2 separate regions of the Homo sapiens genome follow, and region 1 is linked to region 2. The links come from fine-mapping of genetic effects on gene expression. A gene starts in region 2. The other region holds a variant in brackets. All regions are shown on one strand. Distances are from middle to middle. Region 1 overlaps BIN3 (bridging integrator 3). Region 2 holds the start of BIN3 (bridging integrator 3).

What was found.
Region 1: its variant is fine-mapped to the expression of BIN3 in fibroblasts (GTEx, PIP 0.97).

The regions. Positions count from the first base shown.
Region 1 is chr8:22,630,283-22,638,568 of GRCh38, reverse strand. BIN3 (bridging integrator 3) reads left to right here. Exons shown (of 9, transcript NM_018688.6): 3 at 1,607-1,647; 4 at 1,983-2,044; 5 at 7,991-8,127. Among named protein-coding and RNA genes, the nearest start is that of BIN3-IT1, 7.8 kb to the left of the region's middle. RefSeq lists enhancers at 6,367-6,901, 6,902-7,436. The variant A/TA (reference allele first, on the strand shown) is at 4,003.
Region 2 is chr8:22,664,707-22,673,031 of GRCh38, reverse strand. It overlaps BIN3 (bridging integrator 3), which reads left to right and starts at 3,911. Exons shown (of 9, transcript NM_018688.6): 1 at 3,911-3,988. The coding sequence starts at 3,981. RefSeq lists a cis regulatory region at 1-52, enhancers at 3,742-3,801, 3,559-4,188 and a silencer at 4,052-4,211.

The sequences.
Region 1 (8,286 bases), 34 kb after region 2:
AGTAAATTTGTATCTGGCAGTTGTTTATCTCCACCACCAGGGCCCATGTCTGTTTGAATCACCAGGGTATCCCCAGAACCTGGCAGAATGCATCGCACTTAATAGGTGCTCATACATGTTCGTAGGAATGAATGTTGTTTAAATTTGAAACAAAAAGACCTGAACCAGGACTCTGGATTCTAGCCTTGCATTGCCACCAGAATGTCCTGCATCCTTAGGGAAGTCACTCCTGTCTCTGGGCTTCGGGCTCCTCATTTGTAGCATAAATGCTGTTTTGTCATTCCAGGGCTATGTTGAATTAATCTAAATCCAAACGTGGAGTGCTAAGGTTAAGGGGCTTAGAATTCTCTCATCAGGTCAGCGTTGCTGGAAGACAGTGGTAGGAATAGCGTGGCTTTGACAGTTTCTGCAGATGTGTACTCCCTGACCCTCAGAGCAGAAGTCAGGATCTAGGGCTCTTGGGGACAGGATTCCCAGGGAGCAGCCAGGAAGACTTCTTTCTTGGGTCAGCAAATGCCTTCCAGGAGAATGATGGTTACGAACACAGGCTGTGGAGCCAGGCTGCCTGGGTTCCATTCCCACTGTGCTCAACTCTACCCCTCACCAATGGGGTGACCTTGGCCAGGGTACGTAACCTGGTTCCCGGTGACCTGCCTTGGAGATGAGTGTAGAGAACTGCATTCTTGTAAAGCACACAGTGAGGGCTCTGTGAATGTGAGTTAGCGGTTTTGACTTCTCAGAGCACGAAGCCCGAAGCTGGCACCTGACGGCTGCAGCTCTGGCCAGGGAGGGCAGGCCTCTAGCTTAGTCTCCTTTGCCTCTCGATGTCATTTACTTCCCATTGCATGCCCATAAGAGACCAATCATGAGGCTCCGTTTTACAGATAGTGAAGTCAAGGCACCAGAAGAAAGTACTAGACTTCTTAACTTCATCTTCCGCAACAAGTGCAGCCCCGGGTTCAGGACTCACCCATTTGGTTTCAGTGTTGCTGGCTCTCAAGAGAGTTGATACCCGGTCGGGAATGGAGAGAGCCTGACCTGAGTCAGTAGTCACAGTGTCTGTGTTTGATGCATCCCAATCACAAAGCACAGGTGCACGATTGTTCCTGACCCACCCTGAGCCCAGCAGGGGCAGGTGGCCCTGAGTGGAGGGCCGCGTAGGAGGGGAGGTGCCCTGCATGGACCTGGAAACTAGGAAAAGGCAGAGACAGACCCCCAATTCCAGACCCGCCCTCTCCTCTGCACTCTGCTGCCTTCCTGGATGGGGTCCAGTCACGTTCTGAGCACCCTGACTGCCTCCAGCCTGGGGTGAGGAGGGCATGCAGCGAGTGCCTTGCTCCCAGCTGGGAAGAGCAGAGCCACAGTCCGCTGGCACCTGCCTGGCTGGACCCTCTGGGAGGGGAGCCTTCCTCCGTAATTCAAACACTTAATTAACTTGGGATCTCAGAAATACCGTGTCAGGAGCGATCTGTCGGTGCTTGTGTGAACTGGACCATGTTGTTTTCTGCGGACTGGGGCAGGGTGTGGAGAGAGTTTCAGGAGGCTGGGAGGTTTTTTCCACCGTGTTGTCATTTCTCCGATAATTGAGTTATCTCTCTCGTTTCAGGTGGAGAGAGACTTTGAAAGGGAGTATGGAAAACTTCAGCAGTGAGTGTCAACCCCAGAAAGATGAGGTGGGAGGCAGGGAGGGACAAGGGCCCCCTGCCAGGTCTCACCTGTCTGCCCCGTGCCCTGCCCCGTGAGCACCCTGGAAGCTGAGGGCAGCTCAGGTCACCAGGCTGCTGGAACTGTTCCCTGGCAATGGCCATGTGAGAGTCATTCACTCATAGCCTTTGGGTGTAGTGGCACTTCAGTCAGCGGGAAAAGTCCCCGTGGAGAAGATCCCTTTCTCCTCCTCCTTGGCAGGCCCTCCAGAGCACCTGGGCTTCGCTCAGGTAGGGGGAAGGAAGGGGACCCCAAGCAGCCCGTCCCCTGCCTTGCAGGCTGGAAGAGCAGACCCGGAGGCTGCAGAAAGACATGAAGAAGAGCACCGACGCAGACCTGGGTAGGTGACTTTCCACCCGCACCACTCGCTTGAGCAGGTGGGGCAGAGGTGGGCACCCTCCTCTCTCAGCCCCCCAAGGGCTCTGAAGTTGCTGCGCTCAGAGGACGTGTACCCAGTGTCCTGAGAAGCAGCCTCAGGGCAGTCACTCCTCACCAGTCACATCCCACTTTGCACAGAGCTCGCACTGCCCCACTCTGGATGTGGGTGCTGGGGCAAGGCTCTCCTGGGACTCCAGTCAGGACAGTACAGCAGCTGGTGGAAGCTTCTGGTAGCAGATGCCTCCATTGCCTCAGAATCCTGGCCACCGGCTCAGGCTGTCCAGAGGGAAAGGGAAGCACATTCCTTCCCGCAGAAACGAGACTCCGTGGCCTGCTGGGACAGGCGCTCCAGTGGCAACAAGAATGGAAGCTGTCATGTGTTTAAACAGGAGGTTGGGTTAAAGTGTAAGGCCAGAAATACCCCAGATAATTCTATGATGACAAAGGGCACCGGGAGGTCCTTGGGAAGTGGGGGCCAGCAGGTGCTGGGAAACAGCCAGGGCCCTTGGGGAGGTTTCTTGGCTGGAGAGCTCTTGTTTGAAACAAGGAGGAACCAGGCCTGGGAGCCTAGAGACACAAGCAGGTCGGGAATAAGGGAGCATCCAGAGCCCTTGCTGCAGGCCATGTCCCAGGAAGGAGGCGACGAGCAGCCGGGAGAGATGGAGACCATTCCTTGAGGTTCTTTCTCCAAGGCCTTGACTTTCCCACCCCGGAGCAGCAAGCACTTGACCAAAGGTTGATCAATAGCTTCAGCACTCCCTGCGCAGCTCTGGACAGCTGACTTAGCTCTACCTCAGTTCCGTCACCCGAGAAGCACAGGTAACGCCAATCCGAGTGGCACAGGCTGTTGCTGAAGATGAAGTTGGATGAGCAACGTAAAGCACTGAGAACAGGGCCTGGCACGGGTCAGCTCTCGGGGTGTCCGCTCCTGTCATCACCGTCGTCATGGTCGGCAGCAAGCCTCCCTGACTGGGTGGACTCCTGCAGCTCCTTCCCTGGGTCCAGTGGGGAAGCCGTGTCTATATACCACACTGGGACGAGGACCTGAAAGAGACTTGGGTATGGCCAGGACTGCCCACTTCCTCTCACTCAGCAGATGCTGACCGAGAACCCACGTGCACCAGGCACTCTCAGCACTAGAGACTCAACAGCAAGACAAGATGGGAGCTTACGTTCTAGGAGGAAGACCTGCAAGAGGTCCACAAGCGGATCGGTATATAATGACACGTCGTGGCGTGCAAGGTCAATAAAAATAAGGAGGTGGAGAGTGACAGGGTCAAGGGAGGCCTTCGTGGGGACGTGATCCCTGGGCAGAGTCCTGAAGGAATGAATAACCCACACAGGTAGAGCCAAGGGAAGAGGGCCTGAAACACAGTGGACAGCAAGCGCGGAGGCCCTAAGGTGGTGCACGCTGACCAGAGATGCAGGAGAGGCAGCAGGAGGGTGGAGAAGCCATCTTCAGTCCCCTCGGCCACTCCAGCTGCTGAATAATGCCATGTTATGGCTGTGAAGAAATTTCACCTCCCTGAGCTTTTCTGACCTTGAGATTGGCAGGGCACATGACACACCCATTTTATAAATGGGCATGTCCATTTGATAAAGGAGGAAGAGTTCAGCTCCTCTTCTCCAAGTCCAGGGCCTTGTCTCCACAGCGAAGCCTCCCCATGCCCCACTCATTCCTTTGCCCACCCCCGTGCCCGCCACCAAACTAGAAGGTGACCGAAACAGCCCCCACTCCGGAACCGTTGCCCATCCACTCTTTGCTTGGCTGTCTGTGAGCCTAGTGCAAATGGGGCGGCCTCACTGTCTCCTGACACCATTCAAAGGGCCACAGGGCAGTGGGCACCTACGGGTGGGACTTGAGGACCAGTGTGCTCCTACTTGGTACTGCAGTTACGAGGAAAACCCTTGAAATGTCCC[A/TA]ATAGAGGCAGTGATTTGAATTTGTTCCCATTTTATGCCAGCTCCTAAGCCTCAGCCAGTTACTGATGTGTAAACACACCTTTCCTACAAAGCACTGATCACAAAAGGAAAGCGTTCCTTCCCTGGGAGCCGCCGTCACCACCACCATGCCCGGGTGAGCGCTGACTGCCTGTGCAGGGACTGTGGCCGTCTTGGTCTGTGCCATGAATTTTCATGCCAGTGCTAATTCCTGGGCCGTGGGCTGGTCTGAACATGCACCTTGCTCCTGGCCTCTAGCGTTGCCAAACTATGTGTGTCACAAGCCAAGGACTGGATTTGGGAGTTTGTCTGCAGTTGTTTGTTTTGTAGTTATTTCAGGTCTGAGTTACTTGGGTCGCATTTTTCTTGATCGGTCCCCACTGCCTTTCCAGTTCGGGAGCTGCTGTGAGCCATTGCTTCCTTTCCTTCCTGCTTCTGCAGACAGCTGCATTGTCAGAGCATAAACGAAGCCAGGGTGTGCTGTGTTCACAGTGGCTTGCTACGGAACCAAGGAGGGCATCAGGGGTCCGTGACGCACCGTCCATGGCTGTGGAAAGCTTAGTTTCCCAGCAGAGAAACCAGAGTTGAATGGGTAACTGCAGAAGCCTAACACTACTGTCCTCAGTCAGGAATGGATGTGGGCAGAGACAGTGCCTCTGAAGAGCGGTGGTGGTGGTCATGGGGCCAAGGCGAGCCTGACAGCCACATCAGTCTCATGTACGGGGCATCAGTGTTGTAGGCGGGCTTGCTGTGCCGTGGGCCGCTGGGCCCCACCTCCAGCCTCCAACTAACTCATGAGCTGGGCGAGACCTGAAAATGTGTGTCCCTGGAGTTCCCAGGTGATGCTGAGGCCCACACTGTGAGCTCCACTGATCTGGACAGTTGAGGGGAATGGAGGGATGCTTTTCCTGAGCGTGGAATCTCCTGCGCTCCCCCAGCAAGGTGGAAAATCCCCAGTTATTCTAAAAAAGATGACCTTTCTTTCAGAAACTCATACTACTTTCAGAGTGCTCTGGTGAATCTTTGAATCTTACATTCCAGAGGCCGCATCAGGACTCCAGAGACCCGGGTGGGGTCCAAGACCCTCACTTTCTCTAAGGTTCAAAGATCACCAGCCTCCTGGTGTGGGCCAGGCTGACTGTGCCCCTCTCCCAGTCCCTGCAGGGAACAATGAGGGGTATGGGCTGGGGCAGGGACCACAGGTCCAGAGGGGCATGGAGACCTGCTGTTTATTTTTGTTGAGGGGGAACAGAGTCACACTGTGTCATCCAGGCTGGTCTCGAACTCCTGGGCTCAAGGGATCCTCCTGCTTCAGCTTCCCAAAGCACAGGGATTACAGGCATGAGCCACTACGCCCAGCCAAGACCATGGTGTTCTTGGTGTCATCTACCCCAGCTCTGCTCTGCTCACATGAAGCGGGGGCATCACTGGGCGGGGATTCCAGACCCAGTTCTGCCCAGGGCCGGCCACTGAGCCCACTCAGTTCCTTGACTTCCTGACAATGCAAGAGCTTTAGGAAAGAAAGGGGAAAATGCAGCTGGGCTGGGCGCAGTGGCTCACACCTGTAATCCCAGCACTTTGGCAGGCAAAGGCAGGTAGATCACCTGAGGTCAGGAGTTCGAGACCAGCCTGGCCAACATGGTGAAACCCCGTCTCTACTAAAAATACAAAAATTAGGTGGGTGTGATGGCAGGCACCTGTAATCCCAGCTACTTGAGAGGCTGAGGCAGGAGAATCACTTGAAGCCAGGAGGCGGAGGATGCAGTGAGCCGAGATGATGCCATTGCACTCCATCCAGCCTGGGTGACAAGAGCGAAACTCCGTCTGAAAAAAAAAAAAAAAAGGAAAGTGGAAAGACCGTGTCCTCGCTCCTCTGGCTTTTTGGGTTGTTTTCCTCAGATATTTTTTTAAGAAATAGCAGAAGATGTTTTTCAGAAACATTTCCAGCTTTATCCAGAATTTTATTATCTTTTTATTATGCTGTATGTGATCATTTCATAATCAAATCAAGTTATACGTAACGTTTGTTCCTAAATCTACAGAGTCACTCCACAGAATTTAAGAGGTGTTTTTCCCTCCGTTGCTTCAACATTTCTGGAAAGTTTACATTTCCAGCCTTCTCCCACAGTTTGCCCTTTTGCTGGTTGACTGTAGCACTCTCCCAGATTCCAGAAAAACCCCAGGAGGGTGCTCCGGGCTGGCTAGTCCGCTCAGCGCTGCTTTGCTGACTGGTGAAGGGGCCTGGCGGAGGCAGACCCTTCCCCGGGGAGCGCAGGGTCAGGGTTCAGGTTCATGCCATGGAGTGCTAGGCAAGGCCACATCTGTGATTAACTGGGAGGCAGACCTTATGTCATGGGTCCTAAGACACTTTTTCCACAGTTAATGTCTCTGAAATCAAAGTACTGAAAGTGTAGCCTGGTTTGATTGACAACAATTTTTTCTCCCTTAGTAGTTCATACAATAAGTGACTTATAATGAAGAGCATCTTAAATTCAGTAACATGCATATGGTAAGAAATGCATTCACAATGTGTCTTCTCTCCTGAGACCTGCCCCAGATGCACTCTGACACTGGTACAGACGGCATCAGGCCAGCATGACCCTTCTCCAGGGCCGCTTCCTGCCCCTCCAGAATTTTGTTTCTAGAATCTAGAAATAATGGAGGCCTGAAAACATGTTCAGGACCAAGAGCTCCAAAGCTGCCAGCAGGTCTCCAGCCCGCCTCTGAGCCGCCTGTGACTCCCAGGCTTCCCATCTGCCCAGCAGGGAATGTCAACACAGGAGGGAGGAGCACAGAGGGGTGGGCGGCACATTCATGGGGATCCGGTACCAGGGTGCCTTGAAAAACGTCAGTGGATGCCTGATGGACAGAGCCTGATGGACCTGTCCACTGGCTTCCTCTAGGCCAGATCAGAAGGAGAGCAGTGAACAGGGAAGCAGCTGCCCAGGGTCAAGGGTCAGGGCCCGGCTGGCGCACTCAGCCGTTTGACCTTGGAGGCATTACAAACCCTTTTGCGCCTAATCTGCCTCCTCGCTAAAATGGAACCAAACTACATTTCCGCTAGACATCCCCTGGGTTGTTTGAGCCCTAAATGAGAGTGCATGGGAACCTTGGCAGAACCCTAAGATGGGGACCTGCTGGCAGCTTTGGAGCTCTTTGTCCCGTACAAGTCCCCAGGTTTCCATTATTTACAAACAAAATTCTGGGGGAGCAGGAACAGACCCGGGAGGAGGGCCCTGCTGTCCCAGTCCCGCCTGTACCAGCTGCAGTGTGTGTCTGGGCGAGTCTTGGGGGAAAACACATTTTCCAGCGTATCTCTTCCTACTGGATATTGAGGAAACCAGGGGTTGGCAGGGTGCAGCTGCTGGCCTAATCTGACCTAGTTTTGTCAATAAAGTTTTATTGAAACAGCCACATCCCTTTTTTTATGTGTTGTCGCTGGCAGTTTTCACAGCACAAGGCAGAGTTGAGAAGTTGCAACAGAAATTGTATGGCCCACGAAGCCTGAAATATTTACTGTTGGGCCTTTTGTAGTAAAAGCATGTGTAAACTGGAGTACTGTTATTCTTGTCCATCCAGGAGTCCCAAACCAAGCATCACGTCCAAACCACTTGGAGAGCGGTTTTAAATGCATATTCTTGGGTACCGGGTTTACTGAATTAGAATCTTTGGAGCCAGAAACATATTTTATAGCCTCCCACCCAGATGGTCCTTTTCTAACCCAGGGTTTGGAGAACAGGTAAAGCGGCTCAAAAGAATTGTCTGGAGCAGTGTTAGGGTCAGGAATGAACATTAAACCATGGGGATCAGCAGCTTGTGGTTGTGTGGTACTTCGCCGTTCTTGACGGCCGTGGCTGTGGGAAGAGGTCTTCAGGGTGCAGGCCCCTGGCATAGGAGGACGGGGTCCTGGAGAGAAGGCCGTGAAACCTGCCCCTTCATAGAAGGTTCACCGAGCTTTGGCTTCCCACAGCCATGTCAAAATCTGCCGTGAAGATATCCTTGGACTTACTCTCCAATCCCCTCTGTGAGCAAGACCAGGACCTTCTGAACATGGTGACGGCCCTGGACACGGCCATGAAGCGGATGGATGCCTTCAATCAGGAAAAGGTGACTAGGTCTTGGTGTGGGGTGGGCAAGCATGACTTCTGCCCGGTCTGGGCCTCTGGGTGGACTGTGCGGGGAGGCCCGAGTGGGCTCCCTCTGCTCTCAGGGCTCTAAGCCCTCTGGCCTCGTGTGCTGCAAGGTGCTGCAAGCCCACAGGGCTCT
Region 2 (8,325 bases):
CCTGGTTCCATCTGTCTGCTGGCTTCTGACCTCACTGTGCCTTGACAGAACCAAAGGTTGTTGGAGGTCAAATGGCAAACTGTAGTGGCAAAAGCATAAGGATCAAAGCCAGGGTGCTCAGGTCAGAAACCCCACTTCACTGCTTCATGAAGCTATACTATTGCTTCATGGCTATACTTCAGCGCCATCATCTGTGAAATGATAATAATGGTAGTATCCACCTCACAGGGTTGAGGCAAGGATTAAATGTGAACTGCAGAGAATAGTGCCTGTCATGTCATGAGTGCTCAATTATTGTTAACTTATAATAAAAATAATAACAATAAAGTGGAATATAAACCATCTCATCGCTCTTTCTTGTCCAAGGCAGACATGACTAATCAATCATAGAACTTCCCCACTGATGGCAGATTCCCCAGAATCCTCAACACTGCATTCCAAGCAGACAATCAGAGTTGGCACATGGGATGATATCCATTCGCCCTCCCAGATCTAACCTGGACCTTTCCCATTGCAGTCAAGGAAAATGAGGCCCAGAGGAGGGACAAGACTCCCTCAAGCCACTTGGAGGCAGAGCCACGGGTCAGACAGGCGTTCCTGGTTCTGCTCGCTTCTTGCTGTCCTGGCTTCTGATGTGTCACTTCACCCTGACCTTTGAGCAGTCCGTGTGGGCCTCCCACCACTGGAAATCTCACCCTGATTTCCTCCTTCTTCTCCCACCCTTGCTCCTCCTCCTATGTCCTTGCCCCCCAAAGGCCCTGGGAAAGCTATTTTTCTGAGACGTCCTACTGAGCAGGTACAGAGTAGGGAGAAGTGGGGCAGTGAGGCCACAGAGAAACCTGAGGCCTGTGTCTGAATATCTGCAGGAGCCTCCCTGAGGAATCAAGACCTTTAGGGCTCCAAGAGAGCTGAGCCCACCAATTTGGCCCTATCACATTCAGTTTTTCAGCCTTAGCCCAGTGCTATAATGAAGTCCCTGACAGCCCAGGTCCAGGTTCTGGGAATGCTCACTCTTCACTAATAAGAGGTTGGCATGGTGAAAGACTCGGGGGCCAGCCCTAGACTTCTGTGTGGGAAAGGCTGGGAGAGACAGGACATGACAATCCCAGAGATGAGAGTCAGTGGGAAGCACCTGCTTACCAACTTCTGAGCAAAAACCTCCAAGGAAAAGTTGGGGGCTGATGGTGGAGCAGGTTCTGCTGCTGCTTTTCCCCTCGTAAACAGCTTTGTCCCAGAAGTAGACCTCTGCCACCTGAACAGTCTTTTACCTTCAGGCTCAGACTTCTGGGGAAGAATCAGTATTTACAAGGCTTGAAACCAGGAGTATCCACCTCTACCCAAAGCGCCTCCACTCTCAGCTTCTACTTAGAAACCCAATTTTCTCTTTTCCATTCCTTCCCTGCAGGGGCAGGATCAATCTGTATCATGCTGTCCCTTTGGTTATAAATAAGAAAGACATAGCTCCCGACCCTGCAGGCTGAGTTTTTCACAACAGTGGGAAGTGTTTGTGTGTCTCCATGTTCAGCTCCCCAGGGATCAATGCCTCATGGCACAGCAGGCTCATGGAGGAACACAGGATAGCAGGATGCCTGACTGTCCCTCCTCAGCCCAGTGCCCCTCTAGCTGAGCGAATGAGCCACAGGTAAGGAGACCAAGCAGGCACATTCCAGACAGACTCCTGGGAGGACACCATTCTTTTTAGTAACCTCAAAGATCCTGCTGGCTGCATTAAAGATTTCGAGGTGACCTGTCAACAGCACAGCCCCAGAAAAATTCATATTTAGCTTTATCCAAGATATCACCAGTTCCTCAGACCTGCCCACTTCTCTGGGCTTGCCCCTCTGTTCACCTGCCTTTCCCATTCTCCTATTTCCCTAGGGCCTCTAGAGTCAACAAGACAGCTGACTTGGAACCTTGCAATGTTGGATACTTTGGGATGTGATCTACCCACTCCATCTTATAGATGAGGGGACTAAGGCCACAAAGGGGATGTGACTTATCTGAGGTCAGTTATAGTGTCAAAGGTTGAACTGGAAATAGAGCCGCAGACTCCTCCAGACTTGTAGTCCAGAACTTATCCATTCTAGTCCTCTAGGATGTGTCTGCTGCCCTCCAGCCCTGAAACAGACTTCTACTAGGATATAGCAGTTACCTAGGCTAAAACGTTTGGAAATATTTATCCCTGTGGGGCATAACTGAGGGAGGCAGAACATGGGGAAGGGAGGAAGCAGGTGGGAAAACTATTCACAGGTGCTAACTGCCAGGAGGCTCCTAAACCCACAACAGCCCTTCCATCCGTCACACTCTCTGCAAAGCAGCAAGGACTCTCTCTTTCCCTTTACCCACACTCTCTGCCCAGGCTACCCTTTGGTGACTTCTGCTCTTCCTCTTTACTCTTCAAGGCTGCTCTTGTGCTCATTTTGGCCTGTTTCCTGAGGAACAACATGGTAATGAAGCTGATCTGCATGATGTGCTTGGGGATCCAACCTCCATTGGAAACGTCAATTGAGTCAAACTATGGACTCTCAAGAATGGAAACAGAAAACACAAATGAGAGACTGCATCCTGTGGCCCACCCTCCTACCTCTCCTGCTCAAGCCCTCTACTCCACCCTAGGAGGTCAAAACAAATCATACACTACTTCTGCTCTAGGTCATTGGTCATATTTTTCCCGCTAGGTCATTGATTAGCAACCCCCTAAGCAGTCCCTGAAACAATCCCGGTCCATCTGAGGAAGGAGAATTCCTAGAGAGAAGGTCACTGGGGGCCCAGCAGCACCTGCACGGGCCTCACTGCCTTCTTGTCTCTCTTCCAAGGCAGGGAGGTACTTAGCGGTGAGGAAACCAAGTCGGCCCAGAATCCCAGGCAACTTGTGAGCCACTAAGGCCCTGAATTCTGACTTTGGGAGACCCGAGGCAAGTCAGCTGCTTGCTTGGTCCTGTCTGTGTCTTAGCCATGGTAAGTTCCCTCTGCCTGGAGCCTCGTCACCCCTCATCTCAGATTCACCTGGCTAGCCCCGATTCTGCCTTCAGGGCTTGGCTTACACACTGGCTCCTCCTGGAAGCCTTCCCCAAAACCCCATGTGCTACTTCAGGGTCCCCTTCTAGGCTGCCACCACACCTCATTCTATCCTATCCTATAGCATGATTATAATTGCCTGCTTGTCTCTCCCTCCAGGAAAGTAGCTCTGGGAAGGAACAAGAGCAGGGCAGATACTTCTCTGAGATAGCTGTATCCTAAGGTTGGCTCGGTACCTGACACTAATATTAGTGCAACTAGTATTAGTTAAATGAAGGAATAGAACGAATGGGGCAATTTACATCATTTGAGTCCTGTAGAGGAGACCAAAGGGAAGGGCTGAAAGGCAGGGAACAACTCATACTCTGCGTCTTATTGTGTTGAATAACTCTAGGAAACATTCCAACCTGAAAAGCACCTATCTATTGATATTCAGAGCCCTGTGCCATCTTGGAAGGGAAACGTCCGTTTGTTTGTAACAGGTAATGCATGTGTGGTGTACAAACTGTAAAAGATAGGAAAGAGCATTCAGAGAATGTAAGTTTTCCACTTTCTCCATCCCAAATGGCTTCTTCTCCCACAGACAATTGCTGCCACTGTCTCTGGATTAGAAACCACTTGACAGAGGGGACAGCCCGGCTAAGGGCCCTGCATGGTCAGGTGAAGAGATCTTTAGGAGTCAGTGTTGAAGGCAGAAAACGCCCCCAGAGGTTCCCCTCATCCCCCGTTGCAGCCTGTGTGTCTAAGCGCTTGGCCAGAGCCAGAGAGTCGCCGGCAAGGGAAACTCCGCGGCGAGCACGCAGCAGCAGAAGGGTTAACGCGCCGGGCTCCGCCTCCCAACCGCCTCTTCCGGGCAGAGAGGCGGGCTTACGTCACTTCCTGGAGACTGGTTGAATCCGGAAGTGACCCTAGAGAAACGAGTTGTGGCTGAGGACCCCGGCGGCAGACGCAGGTTCGGGACCATGAGCTGGTGAGTGAGGCCCAGGCGGCGGGAGCTGCTGGACCCGCGGACCCGCGAGGCCCCTGGCCCTGTGTCAGTGCCGCGTCCCGGCTCCCTCCGGTCCCGCGCGACCCCTCCGCCCCAGAGCAAGGCCCGACAGCCCCTGCCCTAGGGTCGTTCCCTCGGTGCTTTCCGGAGTCGCAGTCTCTCAGCAGGACTCCCGGGGAGAGTGGCGGATGATCCTCTTAGCCTGGGACTCCGCGTCTGACCCGTTTTGCCGGACTCGCGTCCTCCTAGCTCCTTGAAGTGAGGGACTTCCTTGTTCCCTCCTTTTTTAAACACCCATTGAGGTGGAGTCAGTGTCGTCTTTCTCTCCTGTGGGCATCTCTGCCCCGCGCCAGTCCCTCCAGAGCTGTGGCCCTCGCTGTGGCAGCCTGGACCCAGTTCACTAATCAAAACCCACTCCCTTCTGGGTAACTATCCTCTTTGCACGACTTAGCAGGCTTCAAAAGACAAGGAAAACTTGCTTCTCTTTTTAAAGGGGCCAGAATTACACTCCGCACACACCCTTCCACTGTGGGATTGGACTGGTTTTAATCATTCCAGAGCTATTACTCACTGCCTGCCCTCTAAATAGGCATGGTTAAGTTTAAACTTATGGGAACTATCATGCCATGAGAAAAGAAGCCAGGGAGTCTTAGAGTAATAGAGTCACAATTCCAGTTGCTGCAGTATGATGTGATACTTGGGTCATAGTAGACACTTCATAATGGTGTATTTATTTTGTAAGACTCAGTTTGCCCAAAAGGCAATCCCCATTTGTTGCTCTCGATTATTTATGTTCACAGGAGAGAATTGTGACTTGCCTGCCTTCCTGGGGCTTTCTTAGAGGTTAGAGAATACTCATATGCAGCACCTTACCTTACCGTCAGGCCCAAGGACCTATATAGCCACAACCCTGGACCTCAGGGGATTCAACTATAGTGTGTGAATAAATTGAGCCCCAGAGATGTACAAGATTAATCAGCCCATGGACATAGGGAACATATTTGCCACTCTGTCCTCAGAGGCTAGTGTGTTTGTTTATGCAAAGCGCATGATAACCAGTTATGAATGAATTAAGATAACAGAATGTCCTTCAGGAAGGCTTTTGAAGCTTAATTTTGGCCATCAGTGGAGAACGCAAGCAGCTGATATCAGTCAGTGTCAGGGATACTTCTCTAAAGTAAAATGCGAACCATCTGTCCCCTCCCCCACCTGTTTCTTAGACCAAGATTGATGGACAAATGTCAGACAATCACCGCAAGCACGGGAGGAAAGCCTGAAGCAATGTCCTAATAAGCCCCGGCAGGAGCTTCTGCTTTTCCCTCCACCATTTGCTCCAGGAGGCCAATAAGGGGCTGGAGCCTTAAAAAGCTACCTTCCCTGTCTTGTTATAACCTAGTTAGTGGTGGGCAAAGCGGCAATTCTTCAGTTCCCTTTCCCAGAGGAATTACGTCCTTTCAGTGTCATTCTGGGCCCCCCAGTCTTGCAATATAGATATCCTTTTGGCTGCTGCGTCTTGAATCTTTGGAGTGTTCTTACCTAATTTTTCAAAGTGAAAATGAGGCAGTACAGATGCTTTATATTGCCTAGATTGGCCTTTACTGAACCAATCTTTCCTTCACAAGTTGGGAGAAGAGCACAGCAGAAACTAATAAAGGTAAATGATTCTCTGGGTGATCCGAAGCAGGTTGTTTCCACCTGTCTCACAGAAAGTTTCCCTTCTGAAAAAATAGTAGCCCATTCCTTAAAGGTTATCCTGTCAGGTTGGAGAGAATTGAGATTGACAACTGTCTAACAAGAGCTGAGATTTTCATCTAGTAGCTTTAATTTACCAGTACATGCACATCTTGGTATCTCCTTGGACTGAGAGTCACAGCCAGAAGGGTGGCTTTGTCCCTCAAAGCTGAGATTCCTTTCTCTTCCCCCTTAAAGGGCTTCTACGTCATCTCTTGCGTGGACCCTGACCCTGTCTCTCAAAGACGGGAACAGCACCGGCGCCTGGGCACACAATCACACTCAGTTCCTAGCTCAATGGCTGGCAAGGAGACCGGGGCTGGGTCCTTCTGATTCACTCCCTGAGTGGTTTTCCTGCCCCCAGAATGAATCCATCCATTCATGTGAGACTGGAATTCTCATTAGGGGAAGAGACCAGAGTGACGTAGAGCCATCATGGGAGGCTGATGCCCAAGGTCAAGTTCACCAAGTACATGGGCTGTGCCAAGCCATCATTAAATAAGGCACATGGCCCATGGTCCCCAGAGGGTAACCATTGTTCTGGGCTAGGCTGAGCTTTCAAAATGTCACAGTGAGAAATGTCCAATATTGATGCCCTTTGCACACTGTGGACTTTGCATGAAGAGTGAGAGGCCTTTGTTCTCTGCTTCCTCTGTGCAGGCAACCCGCCCACCCCCTGTTTGTTTAGTGGGTACCTGCTGCCTTCCTGCACCATCTACCCATCCACTCCCCATACACCCATCTGCCTTTCAGAAAAGTGACCCGGTGGTCTGTCCTACTAGGAAGAAGGCATTTGATATTCACATCTCAGATCACAGATTCACTTCTTGGCCTCAAGCCAAATGCTTCTCTCTCTCTCGCTCTCTTTTTCTCTCCCATTGTCCACCCCACCTCCCCCCGCCATTTGCCCCCCTCCCAACTTTCTCTCCTCTCCTCCCCACTCACCCCCTCCCTCCCTATTTCTGTCTCCCTCTTGTCTCCCTTTTCCCCTTCCTGTCTCTCTTCCCCATCTTCCAGTGTATACTCAGGTGGCTTTATTATGGTATGGAGAGAGGATTAAGTAGAATTAAGAATAGTGACCTCAATCTAAGCTGGCTCCAGGAATTGTAGCCTCCTGTTGAACCATACACCTTGATGATTTTAGGCTTAAACGAGGAGGAAAAGGGAGTACTGGAAGAAATCTCCCTATACCTAGGGGTCCAGTAGTTTGACAAAAAGGAAGGAAATTAGAGGCAGAGCAGGTAAGTGTGAGTAGGAGTTAGAGTGCTGCGTTCAGGTTCTGGCTCAGCCACTCACAGTGCGGCCTGGTCAAGCATTGAGCTGTTCTCTGTCTTAGTTTCTCCATCTGTAGCATGGAGTGGCCATTCCTGCTGACAATTTGCCACCTGAGCCTGCTGTGAAATGAGTGGAGTGATATTTTTCTGACTCTTCCGGGGTCTTCTACCTCTGTCTGCCCTTCACACTTTGGTGTTCCTCATGTTTGATCCTTTTTGTTTCTTTCCTGTTTTCACCCTGTAGTCCCTTGCCATCATCTTCAGGATAGAGGCCCAACTCTGGGCCAGGGCTTCTGAGGCCCTCTGGGCCTGGCTGTCCATCTTCACTCCGTGTGTTCCATCCTCCAAGCTTCTCCTGCTCTCTCGTGCCCATGTGCCTCTGGATAACTGTCCCTTCTGCCTGAAATGTTTCCCCTTCACTCACACCCTGTCCACTAGGCCAGCATCTACTCATCCTTCAAGAGTCAGGCCACGCTTCACCTTCTCTGAGGGTCTTCCCTGAGTGGCCCCTCACACCCTGCCATGCTGCACTGGGTGCCGCTCTTCTGACCTTCATCAGCATCTGTACTCCGCTGGCTGGTTTACTTGTCTGTGAGTTCTTGAGTATGGGGACTGTCTTGTGGTCATTGCTATTCCCTAGCACTGTTCCTGGCAGTCAGGAAGTGTTTATTAAATATATGAATGGGGCCTTTTTTCCCTTTTCCTGACTTGCCTCAGCTCAGGAAAAATGTTAAGATAAAAACTTGCAGAACCTACAAACCACTTCCTAAAATGAAGAGCCTCTGAAAGTACTATTGTTAAATTGACCGACACAAGTGGCTTCCAGGTCAGGCTGCCTGTGATTTCTCCTCCCCACTCCTTCTGATCCTCCACTCCAAAGTGCTTTGCTGGGTTTCTTCTGTACTTCCATAGTGCTTCTCCTGTAGCACTTCTGCATCCTTCTGAGTATCACAGACGTACACCTCCCTTCCACACCAACCCCATGAGAACAGGAGCGACATAGAGCTTCTTCATCTTTTTGTACGCATAGTGGGTATCATGCACATAGTGGGTATCTAACAGGTAATTGTTAAATGAATGGAATATAAAGAAGGTAAACTTCTGGGTCAAACAAAACCATTATTCAGTTTTTTTCTCAGTGAAGTCCTTTCCCCTATGATTACCGTTGCTGTCTCACATGTGTAGAGTGCTTCTAACTTTTCAGATGGCTTTCCCGTCCTTTGTCTGACTTCATGCTTATGTCTGCGCAAGCAGTGCAGTCTTATGATCCCCCTTGGTAACTTACTAGAATTCACTCAGCTAGTACCTGGAAGA